Homo sapiens: one gene and its partners. The protein of the gene in region 3 purifies or fractionates together with the protein of the main gene of each other region. This does not show direct contact. Each region holds a gene or a part of one and is shown on either strand. Other genes may lie near its edges.

The links.
Region 1: the proteins of CLUAP1 (region 3) and CADPS2 purify together in Homo sapiens (affinity purification with mass spectrometry, with the first as the bait; one large-scale study listed by BioGRID). This does not show direct contact.
Region 2: the proteins of CLUAP1 (region 3) and NISCH purify together in Homo sapiens (affinity purification with mass spectrometry, with the first as the bait; one large-scale study listed by BioGRID). This does not show direct contact.
Region 4: the proteins of CLUAP1 (region 3) and IFT46 purify together in Homo sapiens (affinity purification with mass spectrometry; 3 studies listed by BioGRID and IntAct, with this or other methods). This does not show direct contact.
Region 5: the proteins of CLUAP1 (region 3) and IFT25 purify together in Homo sapiens (affinity purification with mass spectrometry; 2 studies listed by BioGRID and IntAct, with this or other methods). This does not show direct contact.
Region 6: the proteins of CLUAP1 (region 3) and IQGAP2 purify together in Homo sapiens (affinity purification with mass spectrometry, with the first as the bait; one large-scale study listed by BioGRID). This does not show direct contact.
Region 7: the proteins of CLUAP1 (region 3) and BBS7 purify together in Homo sapiens (affinity purification with mass spectrometry; 2 studies listed by BioGRID and IntAct, with this or other methods). This does not show direct contact.

What each region holds. Positions count from the first base shown.
Region 1 is NC_000007.14:122,389,961-122,393,460, forward strand, and holds part of CADPS2 (calcium-dependent secretion activator 2), read right to left. Parts: coding exon 3,481-3,500; intron 3,356-3,480; coding exon 3,236-3,355; intron 1-3,235. UniProt on the Homo sapiens protein: Calcium-binding protein involved in exocytosis of vesicles filled with neurotransmitters and neuropeptides. Probably acts upstream of fusion in the biogenesis or maintenance of mature secretory vesicles.
Region 2 is NC_000003.12:52,483,104-52,486,603, forward strand, and holds part of NISCH (nischarin), read left to right. Parts: intron 1-1,409; coding exon 1,410-1,534; intron 1,535-2,674; coding exon 2,675-2,724; intron 2,725-3,500. UniProt on the Homo sapiens protein: Acts either as the functional imidazoline-1 receptor (I1R) candidate or as a membrane-associated mediator of the I1R signaling.
Region 3 is NC_000016.10:3,518,004-3,521,503, reverse strand, and holds part of CLUAP1 (clusterin-associated protein 1), read right to left. Parts: intron 1,602-3,500; coding exon 1,468-1,601; intron 1-1,467. UniProt on the Homo sapiens protein: Required for cilia biogenesis. Appears to function within the multiple intraflagellar transport complex B (IFT-B). Key regulator of hedgehog signaling.
Region 4 is NC_000011.10:118,552,432-118,555,931, forward strand, and holds part of IFT46 (intraflagellar transport protein 46 homolog), read right to left. Parts: intron 2,892-3,500; coding exon 2,817-2,891; intron 2,653-2,816; coding exon 2,559-2,652; intron 2,157-2,558; coding exon 2,028-2,156; intron 1-2,027. UniProt on the Homo sapiens protein: Forms part of a complex involved in intraflagellar transport (IFT), the bi-directional movement of particles required for the assembly, maintenance and functioning of primary cilia. May play a role in chondrocyte maturation and skeletogenesis.
Region 5 is NC_000001.11:53,925,200-53,928,699, reverse strand, and holds part of IFT25 (intraflagellar transport protein 25 homolog), read left to right. Parts: intron 1-259; coding exon 260-328; intron 329-3,500. UniProt on the Homo sapiens protein: Component of the IFT complex B required for sonic hedgehog/SHH signaling.
Region 6 is NC_000005.10:76,675,785-76,679,284, reverse strand, and holds part of IQGAP2 (ras GTPase-activating-like protein IQGAP2), read right to left. Parts: intron 2,068-3,500; coding exon 1,935-2,067; intron 1-1,934. UniProt on the Homo sapiens protein: Binds to activated CDC42 and RAC1 but does not seem to stimulate their GTPase activity. Associates with calmodulin.
Region 7 is NC_000004.12:121,842,975-121,846,474, reverse strand, and holds part of BBS7 (BBSome complex member BBS7), read left to right. Parts: intron 1-778; coding exon 779-971; intron 972-2,473; coding exon 2,474-2,548; intron 2,549-3,500.

The DNA of each region.
Region 1 (3,500 bases), on a different chromosome or scaffold from region 3:
TTAGAAAAAAAGGCACCTCTTGCTCTTGACTAATGAAAAGCTTATTCCTGCCCTCCACCCTGGCCTCAGCGTCAAAGCTCTATCACAAACCTACACTGCTTTTCTCTTCTCATTCTGCCAGTAATTCCTCCTGATCTCCTTGTCTAGCCAAAATGCCCTCAGACTTAAGTTCTCTAGGGACCAATCATAGCAAAGCACTGAACACTCCCGTAGCACTTTACTCACTTAAATCTCTTCACCGTAATATTCAGTGCCTCAAATGCACCATTAAATAAGAGAACTAGACAACACCATTCTGATACTACAGTGAAAGTGTTGAAAAAAACACTACCTTTATTTCTCCTTTTGCCATATATATCATACAATTAAGAGAAAACAAACAAACAAAATCTCCCTTCACATCCACAGTGTACAGCTTGGTAGATTAGAGGAACTGAGTTTTAAGAATAACTGAATACAATTGGCAAAGAAGCAAATCTGCTTCTTATAATATTTTTACTTTGGAGAAATGTAACTATTTGGAATGTATATATTCTTTAACAACACAATGACAAGGAAAAACATCATAAAAACAAAATCTCTAATGGTAAAGGCAGAATTCTACTAAAAATAGATTTTCTAATAATACATGGCAATCTTCATAGAGAATATGGTTACATTTTTCTTCTGTTTGATTCTATGGTAAGATTCTTGACAATAAATGTGTTTAATTGGGAATGTAATTAAGATAACAAGTGTTTGTTATAATTAGATAGATATATGAAAAAAATGTGAGTAGGCTTTCTCTGGAGTTGGTACATATAACCTGCAATTTATTCAGAGCTTTTTCATTTTAAAATTATTTCTAATTGGTGGCCTATTCCTAAAGGTATTATTAACAGATTAAAGAATTCGAATGTGAGTAGTAGACTCTGAGATAATTTCCTAAAAATGCCAGCAGGAAACTTAACTTGCTGGCATTCATTTCTAGAGAAAAAAAAACAGAATAAAGATTTATATACAGATACATATGTCGATGAGCAATCCTTGCATGATTTATGCATTGGTAGGCAGGGATGTATCTTCAAAACCATGGTTGCTTTTATATTCTTCTTATTTAATCAGCAGTTGTATTTTTAATTCTTTATGTTAAATATAAATGTTTCTTTTTATTAATGTTTCAAACTTCAAAAAACAAATGGCAATAACATCATAACATTATGAGTAATTCTGGACACTCTGACAAAGAACCTAATGTTGATAACCTTGGTAGGTAAAGATAATGGTGATCAACTTGTAAAACACATTTTTAAATTTCCCCAGAATGGTGAAAGCACAATCACTTTACTTACAAAGCCCCAATTTGTCATTATTCCTGTCCTGAAATTAACATACTTTAAAAAAGGGCCCTCAATAAGGGATTCAGAGTTTGTACAAATCCCAAAGTTAATAAAAGATTACTAACAAAAAAATAAATTTCGCAGGATAATGCCCATGATAGTGTTCTTGGCTAAAATCAAGCGTTAAATAGATGAGAAATTAGGAAGAAAAGGAGTTAAATTATAAAACAGTGTAAAAAAGAACAAAAAAATCATACACTTAGAAAGGTTCATTATAGTTTGTAGGCAATTTTCTGAGCACACACAGACACCACTTTACACACTCTAATGACCAAAAGCATTTGCCTGTAAGAAAAAAAATTCACATGTAACATAATATCCTAGTGAGTATTATGAATGCAGTTATGATGTTAAACTTGGAGAAATATTGCCAAATTACTTTGCAAGTTATTCTCTTTCTTGGTCTTTTCCTATTTCTTTTCTTGATTGTGTGCATACCTGACTGGGTGTGGATTTGCAGTTGGTGGTGGGATAGGTAGAAAAGTAGCAAGTTCTTAAACACAACGTTCTATGACAGCAGAACAAATTAATGATAGGAGTGAGGAATTTGTAGTCAAACGAACCTGGGTTCAAATTTTGCCTCTGTCACTTATTTGCTGTGAGATATTGGGTAAGTTTGGTTTCTTAGTTTCTTTATGACTTAGTTTCCTTAACTGTAAAATGGGGATAATGATATGAGGTTGTTATAAAGATTAAATGAGATAAATAACTTGGCACTGTACTGGAAACAGTAAAATCTCAATAAATGGAAGCTATTTTTCTTCCTCTCATGATTATTCTTTCTAGTTGATTTCATATGAGATCTTGGGCAAAGCAGGTAACTGCCCGAGTTTTCCCATTTGTAAACTAGTACTATTACTTGGTTCTGATTGCTGTGAGGCTCATAGTTTTAAAAACTATACCATTATAAATTATAATGATGATGCCTGATGATAGTAATAATAACAAAAACAACAATGTAGAGTAGTAGTAATTATCATTTACTGGGTGCCTAGGATATGCCAATAGTACTAATAATTTACTGAGAGCCTAGGATATGCCTCAATACAGTTTTTTTTTTTTAAATCATCACAAAAACATCTTTCATTTAGGTGTCATAATTGTTTTAGAGTTGAGGAAAAAACTCAGGCTAAGAAGGATTTACAATTAATAAGCTAAGATCTAAATTCAGAACTGATCAATTTAAAAGCCCATTCCTGTTCACTTCAGTGGTTCTTAGTTGCTGATTCTGCAATAGGCAAGCTCATCATGATGTGAAGTTAATAAATATGGTTTTTGATGATATAAAGACTATTTAAAAATACCAAGATGTACCAACTATATAATAAAAGAACAAAAGAAGAACTTCCTGGTTTTGGCAATGAAAGGGCCTGCAATGATGCAGTACTGTTTTTTAAAAGTTGAGACTAAGATAAAAATAGAAAAATATTATATTCTTGAAACCATTCTTCCAAAGGTTTTCTACTTGCACAAGATAAGTCATCTGGGCAGTAATAAAGCTGGAGCTAAGAATCCTCAAAATGCTTTGTATACATAAGGAGAACTCTGATTATTTTACTTAGGGTACAATGTCACCAAATGATTTACTTAGGGTAGAATGCCACCAAATTATTCCTGTCCCACAGATTATATATGAACTACATTAAACTAGCGTGTTTTTTCTTTTTAATTGACATTATTCATCACAGATATGCTAAGCTTAGCTTACTAGCTTAAAAACTCAAATAAAAAAAAAAAAACAGTATTCCTCAACCAACGATGACAAATGCCATGCAGTCTAAACACATCTGCGCAGAACACAGCCCAGGCCATGCACCAGCTAACACACCACCAGGAAATAAGTGAGGAATACACACGTGGACTCATATAAAGAAGGCATCCACGAAGCAGTAGAAATGTTAGGAATCTGTGGAAGATTAAGAGGCAGACTTGGAACTTTTGGAAGAGCTACATTGGGAAGACTGTTGGCGATATTCCTGTAAAGAAACAAACAACGTGGGAAGGGACCACCATAAGCGATAACTACAGATGGCCATGTGTGAAGTCATAAGGTCAGGGTTGAAGAGGCAGGTGCTCTACGGACACTAGGTAAGATACCTACTTGACAGGCTGCCATGTCTC
Region 2 (3,500 bases), on a different chromosome or scaffold from region 3:
TGCCCAGCGTGGCCCATCAGGGTGCTTCATGCATGGCTGTGTGCTTGCCATCCTTCCTGCCTGCCTACCCCCTGCTGCTTCGCTTCGTGGGGGCGTTTGAGCTTGGGCCCACCTGCCTGCCTCGCTTGTGGGCAGAGGACCCAGGCTGTGTGAGTTGTCCTGTCCCGGGGAGCAGCTGAGCTGGTCGGGGGTCTCGACCTGTGGGGCTCAGAGGACTCGGGGTCATTTCACTGGGCTGTGGCGATGCTGGGCTGTGGAGGTAGGCCTAGGGCTCCTGTAGGCCTCAGTGAGACTGGCGGCCGATGCCCAGTGTTCACCCTGCTGGCGGCAGTCAGGAACATGTTCACAAAGGCTTTACCTTCAAGTGGTCTAGAGGTGATCTGAGGTGGAGTAACAGGTCCAGATAGGCTACGTTCATAAAACAGCTTCAGCGGGGTTTAGGAACACTGTGCATTTACGGGACGCAGTGGGTCAGAGTGCTGCTGTCCGTGGGAGGTGGCCCCAGGGCAGGTCAGTGGGCACGTCCTGTGGTAAGTGGGACTGTGGATGTGGGCTCAGGCTGGACTCAGCAGCCCTGCTGGATACCAAGGCCTGCAAGGGCTGGCCCCCTGGTGAATTGTCCCGTGCCCTGTGTATCTATGAGTCCTGCAGAGATGACAAATCAGGGGACGGGGTCATGTCTAGTCACCGTCTGGGAAAATGCTCCAGGAGTGAACACATTTCAGGCTCTTGATGGATGTACCTCCAAACTCTTCTCTGGATGGGTGGGCCAGCTTGCATGCCTGTGCCGGCCTCTGCCCAGCGAGGTCAGGGCCAGGCCACACAGTCAGTCTGACTTTGGCAGAAGTTGAGAGGCAACACTTGTCTCTTGTTTCAGCTTGCCTTTCTTTGTGTACTTCTGAGAGCGAGCATTCTTTTCATGTTCTATCCGCTGGCCGTTCTTCTGCGGAATGTCTGTTCACGTCCTTTGCAGTCTGTTAATGAGGTTTCCAACCTTCCCTCATTTTTGTAATCTGTAAGAACTTTTTACAGACTAGCGATATAAATCCTTGTCAAATATTGCAAACACTTTTCTCATTTCATCTGGTTTTAATCTATCCTGGTTTTTAAAAAATGTGTCTGTGGAAGTTTAATTTTTATGTAGTCACATCTCAGTTTTTTTCCATTGCATTTATTCTCAGAATGCTTCTCCCTGCCCTGAGATTAGATAAGCAGTCATTTGTTCTTTCTTGAGTTATTTTGAGATTTCAGTTTTAACATTTTCTTCTATAATCCATGTGGCTGGGTTTTGGGATCTGGCTAACCCCCGCCATGCCAGTAGCCTGAGGGGCCCAGCCCCACTTGTTGAACAGCCGCTCTCCCCGCCCCACCCACCCTGCCTGCCTGCCCACCCGCCCTGGTCTCTCCAGGAATCATGTTCGTTCAGGAGGAGGCCCTGGCCAGCAGCCTCTCGTCCACTGACAGTCTGACTCCCGAGCACCAGCCCATTGCCCAGGGATGTTCTGATTCCTTGGAGTCCATCCCTGCGGGACAGGTAATGCCCTCTTCCCGCTTCTGGGGACCATACATCTGTGGGTGGACTCTTCTGCTTGGGGTTGTGTGCAGTAGGAAGTGGCCTAGCTGGAGCTGAGGCAGATGCTTCCAGGGTTTGGCGTCCTCTGCTTTGTGCCACGGTCTTTCTCTTGGACCTGTCTCTGGTTGAGTGTCTTCCTGACAAACACAGTGGTTAAGGGTTTATTTTCAGCCTCCCTCCTTCCCTTCCCCACCCACCTTGGTTGATGGGAACAGGCAGTTCTCTGTCACTGGGCCCAGGGCACGAGGGGGGCAGGTGGAGAGGGTGGCCCTTGACCCTGTGAGCAGGCTTCCCTGGGGAAGGCATTTCAAAAGACCCTCGTGCAGGGGCTTGTTTGGGTTTCTTCTCTGTTTCCTGGCACCCCTGGAGCCACTCGGCGCCTTTCCGCATGTCACCCTGGTGGTCTGGGAAACAGTCTCACTCTGGCGCCTCCTCTGTGGTTGTTACTGAGAGTTCTGGGGCCCCTTCCTTTGTCCTGAGGAAAGACAGGAGGAAAGCAAGGGTGCTTGCTGTGTGCTTCGCAAATGTGCTTGGTGCCTGGGCCTCCCTCCAGCCCCATCTCTGCAGCAGCACAAGGTTATGGCCTTGTGACACTGGGACAGTTTGCAGAGTCCTTGTCTGTCCTCAGTACTCCACAGTATTCTGCCATCACCCTTTCCAGGGTCACACAGCAAGAGATTCCCAAGCCCTAGGTATTCCCCAGTGCACAGAGACCATTGGGAGGGACTTGCCAGGGCTGTGTCCACTGCTGGCCAGTTAGGGTCGGACCAAATTTGTAGACTGTCTACCTGGACCCTTGCGTGGCACAAGGAGCAGTCAGATGCTGGATCCCTGGAGAGTGGCGAGAGGCTCTGGCCCTAGGTTGCGAGTGGGAATCCCAGCCCTGCTGTGTGCTGGTGGGATAACCAAGTGGGTCTCTGCCCTTGGGTCCCAGAGTGGGCCCCAGGGTCCCAGAGTGGGCTCCAGGGTACAGCGTGGGGATGGGGAGCCTCCTCAGGGCGGTGATGGAGGGCAGAATGCCCAGCTCAGGGTCTGGCAACCAGTAAATGGCTGGGGCTGGCTGCAGTAGGTGGGGACTGACTGTGTTTCTTTCTCCATCAGGCAGCTTCCGATGATTTAAGGGACGTGCCAGGAGCTGTTGGTGGTGCAAGGTAAGGAAGAGGTTGGAAAGGGACCTGGGCCTGGCCACACAGCCTTATGCACACACACTGCTGTGGGCCAGGGGTGGCCAGTCAGGTTTTTTTAAAAATCCGTTCACAGAAGGCCTATAGAACTATTTCTTCCTCTAAAGAGACACAGATGAGATGGACTTTTCAATCTGTTTCCAAATTCTAATACCTAAACTCTGCTCAGCACATGTTGCCCTACACCAGGGGTTGGCAAATCAAGGCCTGTGTGTGGCCCACAGCCTGGGAGCTAAGAATGACAGTTACATTCTTTTTTCTTTTTTTGAGACTGAGTCTCGCTCTGTCGCCCAGGCTGGAGTGCAGTGGCGTGTTCTTGGCTCACTGCAACCCCCGCCTCCCAGATTAATGCAATTTTCCTGTCTCAGCCTCAGCCTTCTGAGTAGCCCGGACCACAGGCGCACGCCACCACGCCCAACTAATTTTTTATATTTTTAGTAGAGACAGAGATTCACCATGTTGCCTAGCTGGTCTCGAACTCCTGAACTCCAGTGATCCACCAACCTCGGCCTCCTAAAGTACTGGAATTACAGGCATGAGCCACCGCGCCTGGCTAGAATAACAGTTACTTTTTTTTTCTTTGAGACTGAGTCTTGCTTTGTCACCCAGGCTGGAGTGCAGTGGCCCGATCTCAGCTCGCTGCAACCTCCGCCTCCCGGGTTCAAGCGATTCTTCTGCCTCAGCCACCCAAGGTGCCCGCCACCACACCTGGCTAATTTTTCTGTTTTTAGTAGGGACAGGAT
Region 3 (3,500 bases):
GGGATCGCGCCATTGCACTCCAGCCTCGGCAACAAGAGCGAAACTCCAACTCAAAAAAAAAAAACAAAAACAAAAAAAACCATAAAAATCTATACTGGTTTGCTGAACTTTTTCTTTTTTCTTATTATTGACCTTAAAGGGAAAATTCTACTCTTTTAAAAATATAAGCAGATAAACTCAGAAATAATTATAATCTTTTGAACTAGAGCAAAACAAAGAGACTTTTCTGTTAAAATGATTTGGAGCTTAACAAAAATGAATTGATGCTTTAAAAGTGGAATGTGTCAAGGAGATCAATCTATATGGCGGCAATGACTTCTGTTTTTTTTTTTTTCCCTCTCTGAGGCTCCAGAGGTAAAGAGCCAGTTTCAGGAGGGGAAGGGCCTTGGCCTTGCGCTGGGCAGGGAGGAGCCAGGGCGCTCCCTGTGGTTGCTGTCGCTGCCTCCAGGTGCTGCCTCCCCACAGACCTCGGGACAGTGGGCAGGGTGTAGCCAGCCACCAACATCCAAAAAGGCAAAACATCCGAGCAGAGTAGGCAGCTGGGAAGAGGAGGGAGCCAAGAAGAAAGAAAAATAAAGGGTGAATGAAAAGGGAGAAAGAGCAGAAGCATGGGGGAGGGAAAGAGGCACAGAACGAGGAAGAGAAGAGAGAGAGAGCCGGCACCACTATTCTCCATCGGTATTCCTGGGAAATATATTTCCAATGAGGTAACGTAGGAAGAAAGATGAATTACTGACTGGTGAGGAATGATCAAGGTTTAAATAAAGTCTAAAATCTATGCCAACAAACAGGCAGGAGTATGTTTCTGTTTCTACCTAATTTATGGCAAGATCTTAGGAGACCACGTCTGGATTTCCCCGTCTGGATTCACTTACTCTGCCTTGAGTTCCAAGAAGCTATAAAAGCTTAAAGGGCAGTTCAAGCTTTAAGCAGTTTTCCAGACATACCGCAAGCAGTAAAGAGAATGAGTTTAGCCATCTGCTTGTTATGACAGGCAACACATGTACATTTGAGGTGAAGATACCCTTATGTAAGGCTTTTTTTCATTGCTTGAGAAGAGTTAAGATCACATTCTATTCTCTTAAGTCTTTGTTCTAACTTTTTTTTTCTTTTAGAGTCAGGGCCTTGTTCTGTTACTCGGCCTTGTTCTGTGGCTCAGGCTGGAGTGCAGTGATGCAACCATAGCTCACTGCAGCCTCAACCTCCTGGGCTCAAGCAATCCTCCCGCCTCAGCCTCCCAAGTAGCTGGGACTACAGGTGTGTATCACCATACTGAGGTAATTTTTAAAAATTTTTAGAGATGGGGTTTCATTATGCTGCCCAGGCTGGTCTCAAACTCCTGGGCTCAAGAGAACCCCCCGCCCCAGCTTCATGAGTAGCTGAGATTTCAGACATGAGCCACCACGCCCAGTTTGTTTGAACTTTCCAGGACATCTTTCTACTCATTCTCCAAGTGTTCATATCTACCTGACACTCTGCAGAGTCTCTAGTCGCTTCCGATTTCTTTCCAGTTCTAATTTTCTCTTTTCGATTTTGGCTTCTAAATTAGCTTCATCAGAGGCCACATTATTGAGCAGGTCTTTAGTCTTCTGAACCTGTGTCTATATTTAATGGGAAATAATGAGACAAGGTGGCAATAAAAACAGCCATCCTAATTCTTAGAAGAATTTTGCAACTCTTCAGGCATAGCAACATTATGCTCAACAAACACAAAAGCAAACAAATAGACACTTCCCCAAGCAATGACTCACTTAACCCACTAGTTCCAGGGAGAATGTCACACAGGTCCAGAAAAAGGTATCTCTTTTTTTTTCCCCATGAAAAGCAGGCATTTCTACCCAGGGAAAGAAGTGAAGATGCAAAGAAGAGTGTCCTGGTCAAGGTGGAGAGGCCTGCAGTCTTTTCTCTGGCTCACTCGGTTAGAACAAGGTGCACATCACTCTGGACGGTCAGTCTGCCTTTTTATCATTCGGGCCATGCCCCTAGTTACAAACACCCGACTTACAGAATACCCACACACACCAAGTACTGCTCTACTAGGAGGGGAGAGAAAGAAACAGCTGGTCCCAGCCCTAACCCACTGCCTGCTGGGATTGAGAGAAGGTCCTCTTCCCTCTCCCTGGCAACAGAAGCTTGACTACAGACTAAAAACGAGGAGAAACCACTCTGAAGACAGTACGAAAGCAGTTCCCACAGTGGCAATGGCCACACTGGTGTGCACCAGCTCTGGAAGGGGTCCAGGGCAACAGTTGGACAGAGGCCCTTGGGCAACAGAGGCTGAGTAAAGAAGGGAAGGGGGACACGGGCCCACTGACGGTGACACAAGTCTCCCTATCCTAAGAGAAGGTTCATTTGAAGCAGGTAGAGTCACTGGTAGTGCGCCGTCTTCACATGCGTCTTGTCCGGTGGCTGGCTGGATCACATGCCTGGGGTTCAGGCTCCAATCTCTTTATGAGGAATCTGGACTGCCACCCAGCTGAGCGTGGAACTGCCCCCCAGGGTTCTGGCTTTCCAGCCCTGCATTAAGTTCCTGGTGGCCAAGGTGGGGCTTCCCCTCCAGCTCTTTGCCTATGTGTAGCATCCCACGAAGGGGTTACTCTGTTTTCCTGCAAGTCTCTGAAAAGCTATGGGCTCCACAGAGAAATGGCCTACGAAGCCCAGACACTCTCCACAACTCTCAGGCATGGTGTGTTTTGGAACCAGCCACTGTTACTGACAATGCGTTTATGGTCTAATTTTTTTGGTCTAAGTACACTAGCCACTTCTAAGATACTTTCATGAAAATAATCAGACCCTTATCATCGATTTGCTGCAAGTGCCTTAGAGCCCCCAGGAGAAATGCGAGTTCACCCTCACAGGAAGAAAGGTGGGTCTCCTTTCTAAACAACTTCAGTTAATGGCAACTGTTTCCTCGAACCAAAGTCAGATTAAAACCTAGTAAATTTATCCCACCTTAAACATATCTGTTCCTCAAACAAGAAAGATCCACAATGCAAAACAGCTGTGTAAACACAAGCAATTTTCCCTGGTTTCTGAAATAAATGGCCTGTACTCCCCAAACCCTTTTAAGTACCCATGTTGTTTTGGTTGTTTTTAGAATGATCAAACATCACAGATATTTTCTAACAATGAAAGGAGTCTTAAGAGATGTCTACCAAGAAATGAACCCTGTCCTCTCTTGGGTGTTCTACTTTTAACATATTAGTGCTAAGGGCACATTCATGCCGTGTTCACCTGATTCAGTTAGAACACTGGCAAGGATAAGAGGTATAATAATTTTTTTTTAATTTTTAAATTTAGAAACAATCAAAAATTTACGGAAAACCTGTTGTACAACACAAAGCGTTTTTCCCAACCTAGGTGACAGTAAGTTGCTGACCAGACGTTCCAATACCCTGAATACTTTAGCGTGTATTTCCTACAAATAAGGACTTTCTCCTACATCCCCACAATACAATCATCAAAACAGGAAGCCAGCACTAACACACTACCACCGTCTA
Region 4 (3,500 bases), on a different chromosome or scaffold from region 3:
TTGCTGATGACAGCTGCTGCCACGTGAAACAGTAGCCAAATGAAGGGGATAGAAAACCCTGATAAAATCTGCTGCAGCCAGGCCAGGCATGGCGGTCACACTTGTAATCCTAGCACTTTGGCAGTCTGAGGTGGGAGGATCAGTTGAGGCTAGGAGTTCAAGACCAGCCTGGGCAACATAGTGAGACCTTGTCTGTACTAAAAATTTAAAAATTAGCCAGGCATGGTGGTGTGTGCCTGTGGTCTCAGCTACTTGAGAGGCTGAGGCAAGAGGATCACTTGAGCCCAGGCGTTTGAGGTTGCAGTGAGCTACGACTGTGCCACTGCACTCCAGCCTAGGCAAGAGCGAGATCCTGTCTTTAAAAAAAAAAAAAGCCAAGTGCAGTGGCTCACACCTGCAGTCCTAGCACTTTGGGAGGCTGAGGCAGGAGGATCACTTGAGGTCAGCCTAGACAACATAGGGAGACCCTACCTCTATAAAATAAAAATTAAAAAAAAAAAAAACCTAGCCAGGCATGATGGCACACACCTGTGGTCTGTCCCGGCTACTTGGGAGGCTGAGGTAGCAGGATTGCTTGCAGATCGAGGCTACAGTGAGCCCCAATCACACCACTGCACTCCAGCCTGGGTAACAGAGCGAGACCCTGTCTCAAAAAAAAATAATTTGCTGAAGCCATGGAAAGGCAGCAGGTCAAAATGGCAGGACTGACCATAATGAAATACCATTTAGGCTGGGCTTGGTGGCTCACACCTATAATCCCAGCACTTTGGGAGGCCGAGGTGGGTGGATCACCTGAGGTCAGGAGTTCGAGACCAGCCTGACCAACATGGAGAAACCCTGACTCTACTAAAAATACAAAATCAGCTGGGCGTGGTGGTGCATGCCTGTAATCCCAGCTACTCGGGAGGCTGAGGCAGGAAAATCGCTTGAACCCGGGAGGTGGAGGTTGTGGTGAGCCAAGATCACGCCATTGCACTCCAGCCTGGGCAACAAGAGTAAAACTGTCTCAAAAAAAAAAAAAAAGAAATACCATTTCACACCTACTAGGATGGTTAGAATGAAAAATACAAACAAAAAGTATTGATGAGGATGTAGAGAAACTGGAACTCTCATTCATTGCTGGTGGGAATGTAAAATGGTACAGCCACTTTGGAAAACAGTTTGGTAGTTCTTCAAATGGCTAAACATAGAGTTTCCATATGGCCCAGCAATTCTACTCCTATGTATATACCCAACAGAATAACAATATATACCTACACAAAAACTTGTATACAAATATTCAAAGCACCATTATTAATAAGAGTGGACAGAACTAGAGAATGAATAAAGCAAATCTGGTAAATCCATACAGTGGATATTATTCAGCCATAACAAAGGAATGAAATAATTACCAGGGTCTAGGAGGAAGTGGGAGAATGAGGAGTGAATAGTAATGGGTATGAAGTTTCTTTTTGAGGTGATGAAATATTCTAAATTAGGTAGTGGTGATGGCTACAAAACTGTGATTATATTAAAACTAATAAGTTGTACAATTTAAAAGGCTAAACTTGCTGGTATTTAAGTTATATATAAATAAAGCTGTCATTTAAAAATAGAGCTGGCCCAAAGCAATAACCATCTCTTTTTTTTTTTTTTTTGAGATGGAGTCTAGCTCTGTTGCCCAGGCTGGAGTGCAGTGGCATGATCTCGACTCACTGCAAGCTCCGCCTCCCGGGTTCACACCATTCTCCTGTCTCAGCCTCCTGAGTAGCTGGGACTACAGGCGCCCGCCACTACACCCTGCTAATTTTTTTTTTTGTATTTTTAGTAGAGACGGGGTTTCACCATGTTAAGCCAGGATGGTCTCGATCTCCTGACCTCATGATCCACCCGCCTCGGCCTCCCAAAGTGCTGGGATTACAGGCGTGAGCCACCGCACCCAGGCCCATCTCTTTTGACAGGCAGTAAGTCAACTGTATGAGTGCCAGCAAGGCCTCCTCCACTCTTGGCCCTCTCCAGCTGGGGCCTATACTAAGCTAGTATCTTACTGTGATGTTGTGCTGCTTAGAATTCTCTGTTAACCAGAGTGAGAGCACCGTAGGGTCTGACTGCTTTGTAGAAGGTTCATCCAATACCAATAGGCCAAGGTTGTCAGGCTTTCCATCAGGACGTGGGACCTGGTTAAGAAAAAGGTAAGAAAGCAGAAAGGAAAATGTTTCCAATAAGTTAAGAGGAAGAACACTTCTGGTTCATCATTATTACTAGTATTAAAAGCATGCTTATCATGCTGTACGCAATACTATCCAGAAAAAAAATATTATCCATAGCAGCTTAAATATGAACCTGTTGTCATAGATAATTAGGAAGCAAATACATGACAAACTGTTAATGTGTAATGAGATATTAAGTATTACTTAAGAGCAATGAGTGTAATTTGGAGTTGAGAGCAAGGTTAAGAACTCCAATGAAATGAACATGACTAGCCAATGCTAGTCAAAGAAATTAGGGAAACTGTTAAGAGTAACAGGGGCATCAGAAGAAACACTTAAGGAGTCATTTTCAGGATGTACTGACTATACCTTTAAGAATGCATCAATATCCCCGACAGCTGGGATAAAATCAGGAATGAAAGGCTTCAGTTTGTGGTCCAGGTCAATCAACTGAGGTGTGTACCTAGGAGATATTGCCAAGGGAAGGTGGAGACAGTCAGAAAAAGTTACTTTACTATTCAGGCTAAAAAAAAATCTAAGGGGAATGGCCCTGTTTCAGACTAGAGATAGGAAAGGTTTGGGGCAAGGTAGGGATAGTGGGGTATGGTGGGAGGTCCTAGTACTCACCTACTGATGTACTGGAAGAGTTCCTTAATTTCAGCAGAAACTGGCAAATGCTCATAGTCTGCAGGGTCATAGGCCCTGGGAAAAGGAAAACAGTTTGTTCGAGGTGGCCAGAGAAGAGCAGAGGTGGCAGGGTCCTAGGTGCTGGTGTGTTACTGACTATAGGGACATGATCCTGAAGCTAGCTTCTGCCTCTCCAATATCTGCCTTTCCTGGTGGCTTGCAAGGCAACTTTAAGGTTGATTGTACTTAACTCTCAATTATCTCTGACTCTGAAGGACAGAGGTGCAGAAAATCCAAAACATAATATTTTTTTGATGTTAAAATGTAGCATAAATGGTTTTCCTTTTTTTTAATGAAAGGATGACAAGAAAAGGTAGAACAAGAGATTTTAGGGCTGGGCGTGGTGGCTCACACCTGTAATCCCAGCACTTTTGGAGGCCGAGGCAGGCGGATCACCTGAGGTCAGGAGTTCAAGACCAGCCTGGCCAACATGGTTGAAACCCTATCTCTACTGAAAATACAAAAATTAGCCAGGTGTGGTGGTGCACACCTGTAGTCGCAGCTACTCAGGAGGCTGAGGCAGAAGAATCACTTGAACCTGGAAGGCAGAGGTTGCAGTGAGCCAAGATCGCACCACTGCACTCCAGCCTGGGTGACAAAGCAAGACTCTGTCTCAAAAAAAAA
Region 5 (3,500 bases), on a different chromosome or scaffold from region 3:
TCGGAACAATGCCAAATTCAGAAAAGCTCTACTTGCTCTGTGTTGTATGGTTGCGAACATTTGGAAGATTAGTTACACAAGACTATATTTTACCATAGGGTTTTTTGGAAACATACAGAGTAACTTCCATGTTGTTTCTGATCCCAGTGCTCTGTGTAGTTCCACTGTGCATGATAATCTCAGGCAGAGGGAAAAAGAAATATAGGGACAAAAACATACAGCCAGATTAACACTTTACTTACTTTGTTTACAATGTTAGTACAGACCTTGAAGATTGAAAAAAGCACGTCTAAAGAGCCAGTTGATTTTGAGCAATGGATTGAAAAAGGTATGTGTTTCACCAGCATTGTTCTGAGCATGAAGGAGTAGATAATATTCCTTTGATTCTGCATTTCTCATCTAGCTGCACTTTGGTGAAAAAAGATGACTTTAATGATCCTTGTGACACATTTAGGGTCTAGAAAGACCCAGGTTTGAATACAAAGCTGCTTCTTCATTTACTGGTTATATAAGTATTAACATGTGACTTAATTTTTCTCAGTTTCAGAATCCTTATTAGGAAAATGGTGATGATATCTATCATTCAAGGTTTTGGTGAACTAGTGTCTGGCATATAATAGACAATAAATATTAGTTTCTCATCTTCTTTCCTTTTGTCCTGATTAAGGGTACTATTTAAATATCACCAGCAGAATTGATAGCCTCTACTTAATTAAACACAGCATCTTGCCTTCATATGTCTATTTTCCCTTTCAAAATACCATGAAAATAATATTAAAGGAATAAAAAGAGGCATAAACCTACAAGGACAAAAGATTTAACAACCAGCAAACTAAAGCAAATGTGAGAGATCAGTGTATATTATGATAAAGAGAAAGCAGATTGAAGAGTAGTAACTTCTTTAGCTGAATGAACTGTGTTATAACCTAAGGTCTTGACAAGGAGCATGTCAATAAGAAGCAAGCCACTTTGCCACACAAAACCCCAGAAAGGCCTAGAGCTCAAAGGCAACAGGTGCCATGGGAAGTATGAATGAGACCTGGGTCAGAAAACAAGGATGATTAGTTGAACATCTATTTACAGAGTAATCAGACTCTAGGTACCTTCTTCCGTCCTACAAAACTAGGTGACCACTCCTTTATCCCACAGACCTCCACCACAACCCTCAAGAGACAACTGCAAATATAGAATGTTGAGGCTCAGGAGACCAGATATAGTAGGGAGTGAGTGAGACATGGAGTTGAAAATACGATACTAGTGGAAGCCTACATATTGAATAGTGGGAACACCAGCCTCCTTCCTGTGTTCTGGTATTAACTTCAGCAGCCAAGAATATACCCTCAGCTGGGAGACTGGAACATTCATCTTTGGAGAAACTAAATGGCCCTAGAAAAAAGACCTATGGATACTGACAAAGGCCAGCTCATTTCTGGTCACCTTATTTAAGTCCAGTAATCAATAAGTGTGGCTCATGCACACAGTTTTCAAATGATGCACAGTTTTCAAATGATCCACAAGTAACAAAAGAAAGATCACAAGACATTAATGAAGACCTCAAACCCTGAATATAATCAAGCTTTTAGCTCTAATTTCCAATCTATAAGAAATGTAGAGGATAGAGGAACAAATTAAGTGAAACCACGAATAGACAAGATGATAAAATCTAGAATGTGGGGCCTGGGCACAGTGGCTCATGCCTGTAATCCCAACACTTTGGGAGGCTGAGGGAGGAGGATTGCATGAGTCCAGGAGTTCAAGACTGGCCTAGGAAACATGGCAAGATGTTGTCTCTACAAAAAAAAATTAAAAATTAGCCAGGGATGGTGACATGTGCCTGTAATCGTAGCTACTTGGGAGGCTGAGATGGAAGGACCACTTGAGCCCAGGAGGTTGAGACTGCAATGAGCTGTGATCATGCCACTGCACTCCAGCCTGGGTGACAGAGCAAGACCCCATCTCTTTAAAAAAAAAAAAAAATCTAGAATGTGGGACATTGTACAGGACAACTGACCTGGTCTCTTCAGTAAGTCAAAGACATTAAAAAATGTGTGTAGGGGAGAGAAAGCAGTTGAAGGTTAAAAGAGACTTAATTCTGATTTTAATAAACCAATTAAAAAAGACAGGGACAATTGGGGAAATTTGAATAGGAATTGGGTTTCATATTATATTAAACCACTATTTTTAATGTTATGATGGTGGTATTATGGTTATATAAAGAATTATTATTTAGAAATGGATAATTAAGTATTTAGGGGAAGCTAGGCTCACGCCCATAATCCCAGCATTTTAGGAGGCTGAGGTGGGCGGATCGTTTGATCTCAGGAATTCAAGAAACTACCCTGGGCAACATGGAGAAATCTTGTCTCTACAAAAAATATACATATATATTTGCTAGGTGTGGTGGCATGCACCTGTAGTCCCAGCTGCTTGGGAGGCTGAGGAAGGAGGATCACTTGAGCCTCAGAGGTGAAGGTTGCCATGAGCTGAGATTGTGCCAGTACACTCCAATCTAGGCGACAGAGTGAGACCCTGTCTCAAAAGAACAAAAAAGTATTTAGAGATGAAATGTCAATAATGTCTTACACTTGCACTTGCTTTAACTTTTTTTTTTTTTTTTTTTTTGAGACTGGAGTGCAGTGGCGCAATCTCGGCTCACTGCAACTTCCGCTTCCCAGGTTCAAGTGATTCTCCTGCCTCAGCCTCCTGAGTAGCTGGAATTACAGGCGTGCACCACGTTGCCTGGCTAATTTTTGTATTTTTGGTAGAGACAGAGTTTTCACCATGTTGGCCAGGCTGGTCTCAAACTCCTGACCTCAAATCGTCCACCCACCTCAGCTTCCCATAGTGCTGGTATTATAGGAGTGAGCCACCACACCTGGCCTAAAATACTTTAGTGAAAAAAAAAATTGATAAATCCACTATGATGAAATGTTAGTAATTATAAAATCTAGCTTATGGGTATATGTGGGAGTTTTTTTATGTTCTCTCCTAAGTATGTTTGATATTTTTCTTTTTTCTTTTCTTTTTTTTTTTTTGAGACTGAGTCTCACTCTATTGCTCAGGCTGGAGTGCAGTGGCGTGATCTCGGCTCACTGCAAGCTCCACCTCCTGGGTTCACGACATTCTCCTGCTTCAGCCTCCCGAGTAACTGGGACTACAGGTGCCCGCCACCATGCCCAGCTAATTTTTTGTATTTTTTTTTTAGTAGAGATGGGGTTTCACCGTGTTAGCCAGGATGGTCTCAATCTCCTGACCTTGTGATCTGCCCGCCTCAGCCTCCCAAAATGCTGGGATTACAGGTGTGAGCCACCATGCCCAGCCGATATTTTTCAATTTTTCATAACTAAAAAAACTAAGCAAATGAAAAAGTTTATTATTAATTTCTGGTGATAGAGTTGTACAAGAAAGAAAATATCATTATAATGTATTATTTCAGGAGTAAATAACCTTTAGATAGACAGAGTAATGTAACCATCAAGTAGGATTTCAAATTTGAGAGG
Region 6 (3,500 bases), on a different chromosome or scaffold from region 3:
TCTCCTTAAAGACTTCTAAGACTTCTAAATTAATACAGTAACATTTTCTCTCTGCTACCCTTGGGAAAGAATCTCTCACTCTAAACAAGTACTCCCCACCATTTTTTTCGCATGTGGATATTGCATTCAGCAAATGTGCACCCAAGATGTACATATTCTTTGAAGACAGATAATGTACCACAAAAACAGACAAATGGGTCATTGCTCAAATATAAATGAGTCTGTCCAGTAGATAATTATTTCTGTAAGTAATGCATTGCTAGATTGCTGGACAGTTTTCCTTGTAATCTAGGGTGTTCATATATAGAGAAAAGAAGGATAGCCTATTCATTTAATCAGTATGTATTGAGAGCTTGATGTAAATGTCAGGGAAGTTCCCTGTTTCAACCCTGAAAGAAGAAAATCAATACTAGATTCAATCTTTCCTTCAAACCTACATTCAAGCTTTAGTTTCTTAGAAGAGCTTAATAATAGACTGAAATTTTAAGCAGCTAACCTGCCACTTGTCAGTATGTCTGGTTTGATGGGGGCTAGAGCACAACCTTTGAGAATGTGTATTTGTTATGCTTTCCCTTTGGTTCTCTGTATAATCCAAAGTTGGGTGCATCCTTAACTGAAGCATCTAGAACTTGAATGTGCATCTGAATCCTCTGGGATCTTGTTACAATGCAGGTTCTAATTTGGGAGGTCCAGGGTGCATTGCTAACATATCCCCAGGACCTTGCTTCAACTCACAAGGTCTGAAACTATTCTTGAAATGGTTACCTTTTAAAAACCAAGATTTTTTCATGAAATAAGTTCCAATTGATCTTAAAAAGAAAACAATGCAAACCCCTCAATGCTTAGCTTTTTTTTTTTTAATTTTAATGTTTGAAAAGTCATCTAAAGCCTCCCAATTCCTTCCCCATGCCACTGAGCACAGTGCCCTGCACCCAACAGATACTTAATACATGCTAATGGCTGACGGCAGTGATGTCTGCATGCAAACCAGATGTAGATGTCATAACACAGCACATGATGTGAAAAACTGCCTGCTTCCGAGAAATGGGGGTTTCCAGAACAATGGAAGTGATTCTTTGCAGAAGGCTACTATTGGGTGGTAGTTTCTTGTTTTCGTTGCGTAGCCTGTTTATTACCACTTTATGTTAAAACATTAGAATAAAAAGAATATTCTCATTTCCCCCAGAAAATTACTGGAAAAGCTGAGAGGGTTCCTGGAAGAGGGGAGAGACAGGGTGTAGGTCTACATAGCATAGCTTTGGCGGATGAGAACACCATAGCCTGTCCTGGCTCAGGGCTTAAACTGCATATTTACAATCTGGCTTTATTTTTATTATTTATTTATTTATTTTTTGAGGTAGGGTCTCGCTCTGTTGCCCCGGCTGGAGTGCAGTGGCACGATCATAGATCACTGCAGCCTCAGACTCCTGAGCTCAAGTGATCTCCCACCTCAGCCTCTTAAGTAGCTGTGACTACAGGCATGTACCACCAAACCCGGCTAGTTTTTAAAAAATTTTTAGTAGAGATAGGGGTCTCACTATGTTGCCCGGGCTAGTCTCAAACTTGTGGGCTTGAGTGATCCTCCTGCCTCAGTCTCCCAAAGTGTTGGGATTACAGGCATATGCCACCATTCCAGTCACAATCTGGCTTTGTAAATGGATTATGCCAAAAGTACACTTTCTTTTTTGGGGAGAAGTTTTATTAATGTCTAGGAGTCAGGGAATAATTATGTAAAAATAGAATTTTGTTGTTTGGGAGAAGGAGTTTTATTAATGTATAAGAGTCATGGAATAAATAATTGCGAGATTTTTAGGGTTAAGAATATGAGTATTAGCACATGTGTACAATAAGTCCTGTAGAGATTAAGCATTTTCAAGATAACAGATGCCTAAATCATGGGTCCATTGCTAAGATGGCTCCCCATCCCCACTTACTGAGTGTGTGCTGATGATTTCTTCAATTGAAATATAAATGACTGGTTTGCTGACTGTCACCAGGTCTGTGTATTTGTCCATATTAAACTTCTCTTCTGGCTCAGGGACATTACATGCTTCTTTGAAATATTTCCTAATAAAGGGGGGAAAAGTCTTAAGACAGACTCAAACATGTGCATTAAACAGTTTCATCAAAATAGCTAGGAAATTTTGAATGATGACATGTACTTTGTTCCCATCTCAAACCTTGAGAGGACGTGTTACAGCTTCTTCCAGGCTGGCTCCTGGCTGTCGGAGCTGCATCCATGTTTCTGGATATTGGACCCAGCTCCTCAAACAGGATTGGAGAGAGTGGCAAGGGCCTCAGGCCCTGTTTGTGACTTAGTGATATAGTGACCTATGCGTAGGTCATCTTAAAAATGTTATTTTAAAAATGGTCCCTGAAACTTAAAAAGTCAAAAATGATAATTCTTGATCTAAGAATCAAGTCTGTGTGAGGAATACAATAGAAAAAAAAGCAATTAGTCAAATTTGCTGCTTTAAACAGCACAGGCTCCTGGGCCTACATCACCCTAATCACCCTTCAGAGCTTCTGTTACCAGTTTGACAAAAATGAGATTAAGTCTACTCTTCTTCGTTGCTGCAAATATTTGCTGGCCGATGGAAAGATTGTTAAGGCTAGACACCCAAATACATAACATGTCCCAGGACTCAGACCCTAAAAAGTCTATTTTAAGCTAAAGCAAGTTTTGACAGAGATCAAGAGAAGTGAGGCATGCTGTGATCACAGTTGAATAGTTCTATGTATTTTTTGCCTAAACAATTCTTGTGCAGGTCGAATATACATTTTATTCTATAAAGTTGTAAATGTTTCATATGCCTGAAATCATTGTCGGCATCTCTCCTACAGGCACCTGGGTCTTATGTACCAGAAATGACCTCTGCTTTCCCAGCCAGAGGCTGGGGGAGGTTAAACAGCAGAGCCCTGTTGTGGGGAGCATGTTCCCATGTAACAGTCGGCTTTCCTATGCTGCTTTGGTTATAATTTTTTGTAGATTTCTGAGAAACACAAAGGATAAATATGAGTGGAAGAAAGGACAAGTTTAGAAGAGGCTCACTTCTTTGGTCTTGTTTCTTTTTAAATAAAGAATAGGTGGGAACATAAATGACTGATAGGAATAACAGCAGTTAAAAGTTCATGAGAAATGTGGGAAATGGATATTACTTTGTGTGTGTGTGTGTGTGTGTGTGTGTGTGTGTGTGTGTGTGTGTGACAGAGTCTTACCCTGTCACCTGGGCTGGAGTACAGTGGCACAAACACGGCTCACTGCAGCCTTGACCTCCAAGGCTCAAGTGATCCTCCCATCTCAGCCTCCTGAGTAGCTGGGACTACAGGTGCTTACCACTATGCCCAGATAATTTTTTAAATTTTTTGTAGAGATGAGGTCTCCCTATGTTGCCCAGCCTGGATATTACTTTGTTAGTCAGTGAGGAGAATGAAAAATTAGCTTGAAAAATCAACACTTTCTGTAGTAGGAGGATTTGGGGCAATTTTCTCACAAAAGA
Region 7 (3,500 bases), on a different chromosome or scaffold from region 3:
AGGTACATAGGAGTAAATATGTAATATTTAGCAGTAAATATTTCTTTGATGAATGAATCTTTTCCTTTGTTCATTACACAGATCCCTTCTAAGCTCCTCCCTAGACTTTTCCTCCTAAACTGTGGCTAGTTAAGCCTCATGTTGTTCTATCCCAATGACTGTTTACTCCATTTGCATGTGGCCCTTCCCCTTAACTGGAGCTCTAAGCAATGCTGTAGTTCAGTCTCAGCAGAATCCTCTCTAACTCTTGGTAGTTAAGCCATACCACTGGCTCATGATCATCCTTGTGGTCCCCAAAATGCTAATGCTCTGCAGCTTCCTTTTTATTTTTTATGTCTCCCCTAATGTCTTACTGAAAGTTACGTGTTTACTGGCTTCACACATTTTGTCTCTTTTCATTAAGACTAATATGTTCTGCAATATTAGTTTCTCTTCTCATTAGTATAAGAAGTTTCTCTTCTGATTAGTACTTTATGTAACTGTAACAAGATTCCTGTGTTAAGATTATTTTGTAGCCTACCATGATATTTAAAACTCTCTATTAATATTGCTAGTATGGGAATGAGTAGATATTTTAATTTTGGGGTTAAGGATAAATAATGTGGAATCATTTAGTCAGTCATAGAAGCAAAAATTTTGCTCCCTTTGTTTTTATTTTATTAACTCAACCAATAAAAACCCATTTTGTAAAAGCAAATGTCTCAAATTTTTGTAAACATCCTAACGACCTCAAATGTTTATACTTATATTTGACAAATTTGTATGTGTTTTTCTCCAGGAATGAGTTGGAACATTTGCAGTATAAGGTATTGCAGGAAAGAGAGAATTATCAACAGTCTTCTCAATCAAGCAAAGCAAAATCAGCAGTACCTTCCTTTGGTATAAATGATAAATTTACACTAAATAAAGATGATGCCAGTTACAGCCTTATCTTAGAGGTACAGACTGCAATAGATAATGTCTTAATACAGGTAAGCAAAATGTCTAATTTCTTAGTTTTATGACTGGATCTATTTTGCAAACCAGTCATATGTACTAATTATTATTGAACATTTTTAGTTTTAGACAGTAATTTTATTTTATTTTTATTTTTATTTTTATTTTTTTGAGACAGAGTTTTACTCTGTCACCTAGACTGGAGTGCAGTGGTGCGATCTCAGCTCACTGTAACCTCCGACTCCCAGGTTCAAGTGATTCTCCTGCCTCAGCCTCCCGAGTAGCTGGGACTACAGGTATGTGCCACCACACCTGGCTAATTTTGTATTTTTAGTAGAGACGGGGTTTCACCATGTTGGCCAGGCTGGTCTTGAACTCCTGACCTCTGGTGATCCACCCGCCTCGGCCTCACAAAGTGCTGGGATTGCAAGCGTGAACCACCCCACCCAGTCATAGACAGTAATTTTAAATGTTTATGGCCTTTTATTCTTCCTTTAGATAATTGGTTTGCTCACAGATTATTTGAATTATATTTTTACTTTTTATTTATGTACTTAACAAACAAAAGATGGGCTTCAGTTTTAAGAAGAGTTAGAAAAGACAGTAAGGTTTTTCTTCTTTGGCTACCCTCTGGGAGAATCTTAACAGAGATGTGACTTAGAAAACTACCATATTTAATGCCCTTGCTAGAACATTTTTTTTTAAAGCCCCAAACATTAAAGTACAGCTTGCTCATTAACCCAACAGTTTCTGGTAGGTCAACAGGCAAAGTAGAGAATACTAAAGGGTGAAATTTAGGGATAATAATATATGACTCCATTCATCAATGTATATATTTACTGACTTATTTAAATTAGAAGGTATTCAGGAAGTAGAAAAGAATAATAGGATGAATAGAAAACAAACAAAAGGTAGTAAACCAATCACAAAATGAGAACATAACAAATTGGAGGAAGAAAAGGTTTAAAAAGATGTAATGGAGAGATCAGATTATTAAAAAAAAAACCTAAAGGCAGAAAACTCTCTTAAGTAATGCTAGCTCACGGGCTGTTGCATTGAACAACTCTAGGAATGCCATTCACATAGGACAGTGCAACAGCTTTGTCCTACAAACTGCCTCTCCAGAGGAGACCAAAAATTATCTTCTTTCTGTGTTACAGGTAAAATTAAAACTGATAAAAATGAACTGATACAATCAGAATGGCCATGTGATTATTTATAGCTCATGGTAACATTTTTAGCACTTTATAAAAATAAGTGGGATGATTGGACTTTTAAGGGGGTGGTGAGAGATGTTATTCTGTGATTTTTATAATCCAAGTTAGAAAAAAGCAGGTGATTGTAAAATAACATTTATTCTTTATTATATTTATTTTCTGGAAGTATATACTATCAAGTATAAGTTAAGAGAATTCATACTCTCAAATTTAAAGATGAATATAAACTAGAACTAAGGAGAACTCTTAGAGAAAACATAATTTATGAACATTTTTAGGTTTTCCATCTCAACCTTCTTTTTTTTTAATATTGACTATAGAGTGATGTTCCAATAGATTTACTTGATGTGGATAAAAATTCTGCTGTTGTTAGCTTTAGCAGCTGTGATTCTGAGGTGAGTAAAAATATAAAAGAATTCTTCACATGCTTTCATTTCTATTATGCCATTTTGATTAAAGTCTATAGATGCTGCTAGGTTTTGATGTTTCTTTTTCAATTATTTCTTATGTAACCTTTCCTTCAAAATCTGTGTCGGTTCTCTTTCCCTGTCCTCAGTCGAGAAACCTGATGTCCTAGATTCCTTCTTTTCTGTGATCTGTTACAGGTTGATATCCCTTATGTGAAATGCTTGGGACCAAGAAGTATTTTGGATTTTGGATTTTTTTCAGGTTTTGGAATATTTGTTTTGTATTTACTGGTTCAGCACCCCAAATTTGAAAATCTGAAATCTGAAATGCTCCAATGAGCGTTTCCTTAAAGTATTATCTTGGCACTCAAAAAGTTTAGAGTTTTGGAACATTTTAGATACTCAGTTTGGGAATGTTCAGCCTATATATCCAATTAGTCACTAGTTTCTGTCAGTTCTACCTCCATGGCTTTCATACTTCCACTTGGCTTCATTCCTACCCCTGTTAACTTAGTCCAGGCCCTTATCATGTCTTGCTTGAACTACTTTATAAGTTTCTCTGCCTCTAGTCTTGCCTCTGACTTCTAGGATATGCTGTATGTACACTACCACCAGAGACGTCTTCCTTCCTAAAACACGAACATCACTGTATCTTTCTTTTCTCAAAACCTTTTCAATATTCCTGATTTCCTGCTAGATATAAATATAGATTCCTTATTGTGGCATAGAAAACTTTCCATGATTCAGCTCTTGATTACATCTCTAACTTCTCTCTCACCGGCTGCTACCACCCCTCCCATGCACATTATTTCTGCCAAACTGAAGTTCTTAAAATTCCTGAAAATGCTATATAGTTTCACACATCCCTGCATTGGAACATGATCTGTTGCTTCCCCCGCTCTTCCTGCCCTGCCCCACTTTTTCTAGGCTTGTTGAATGC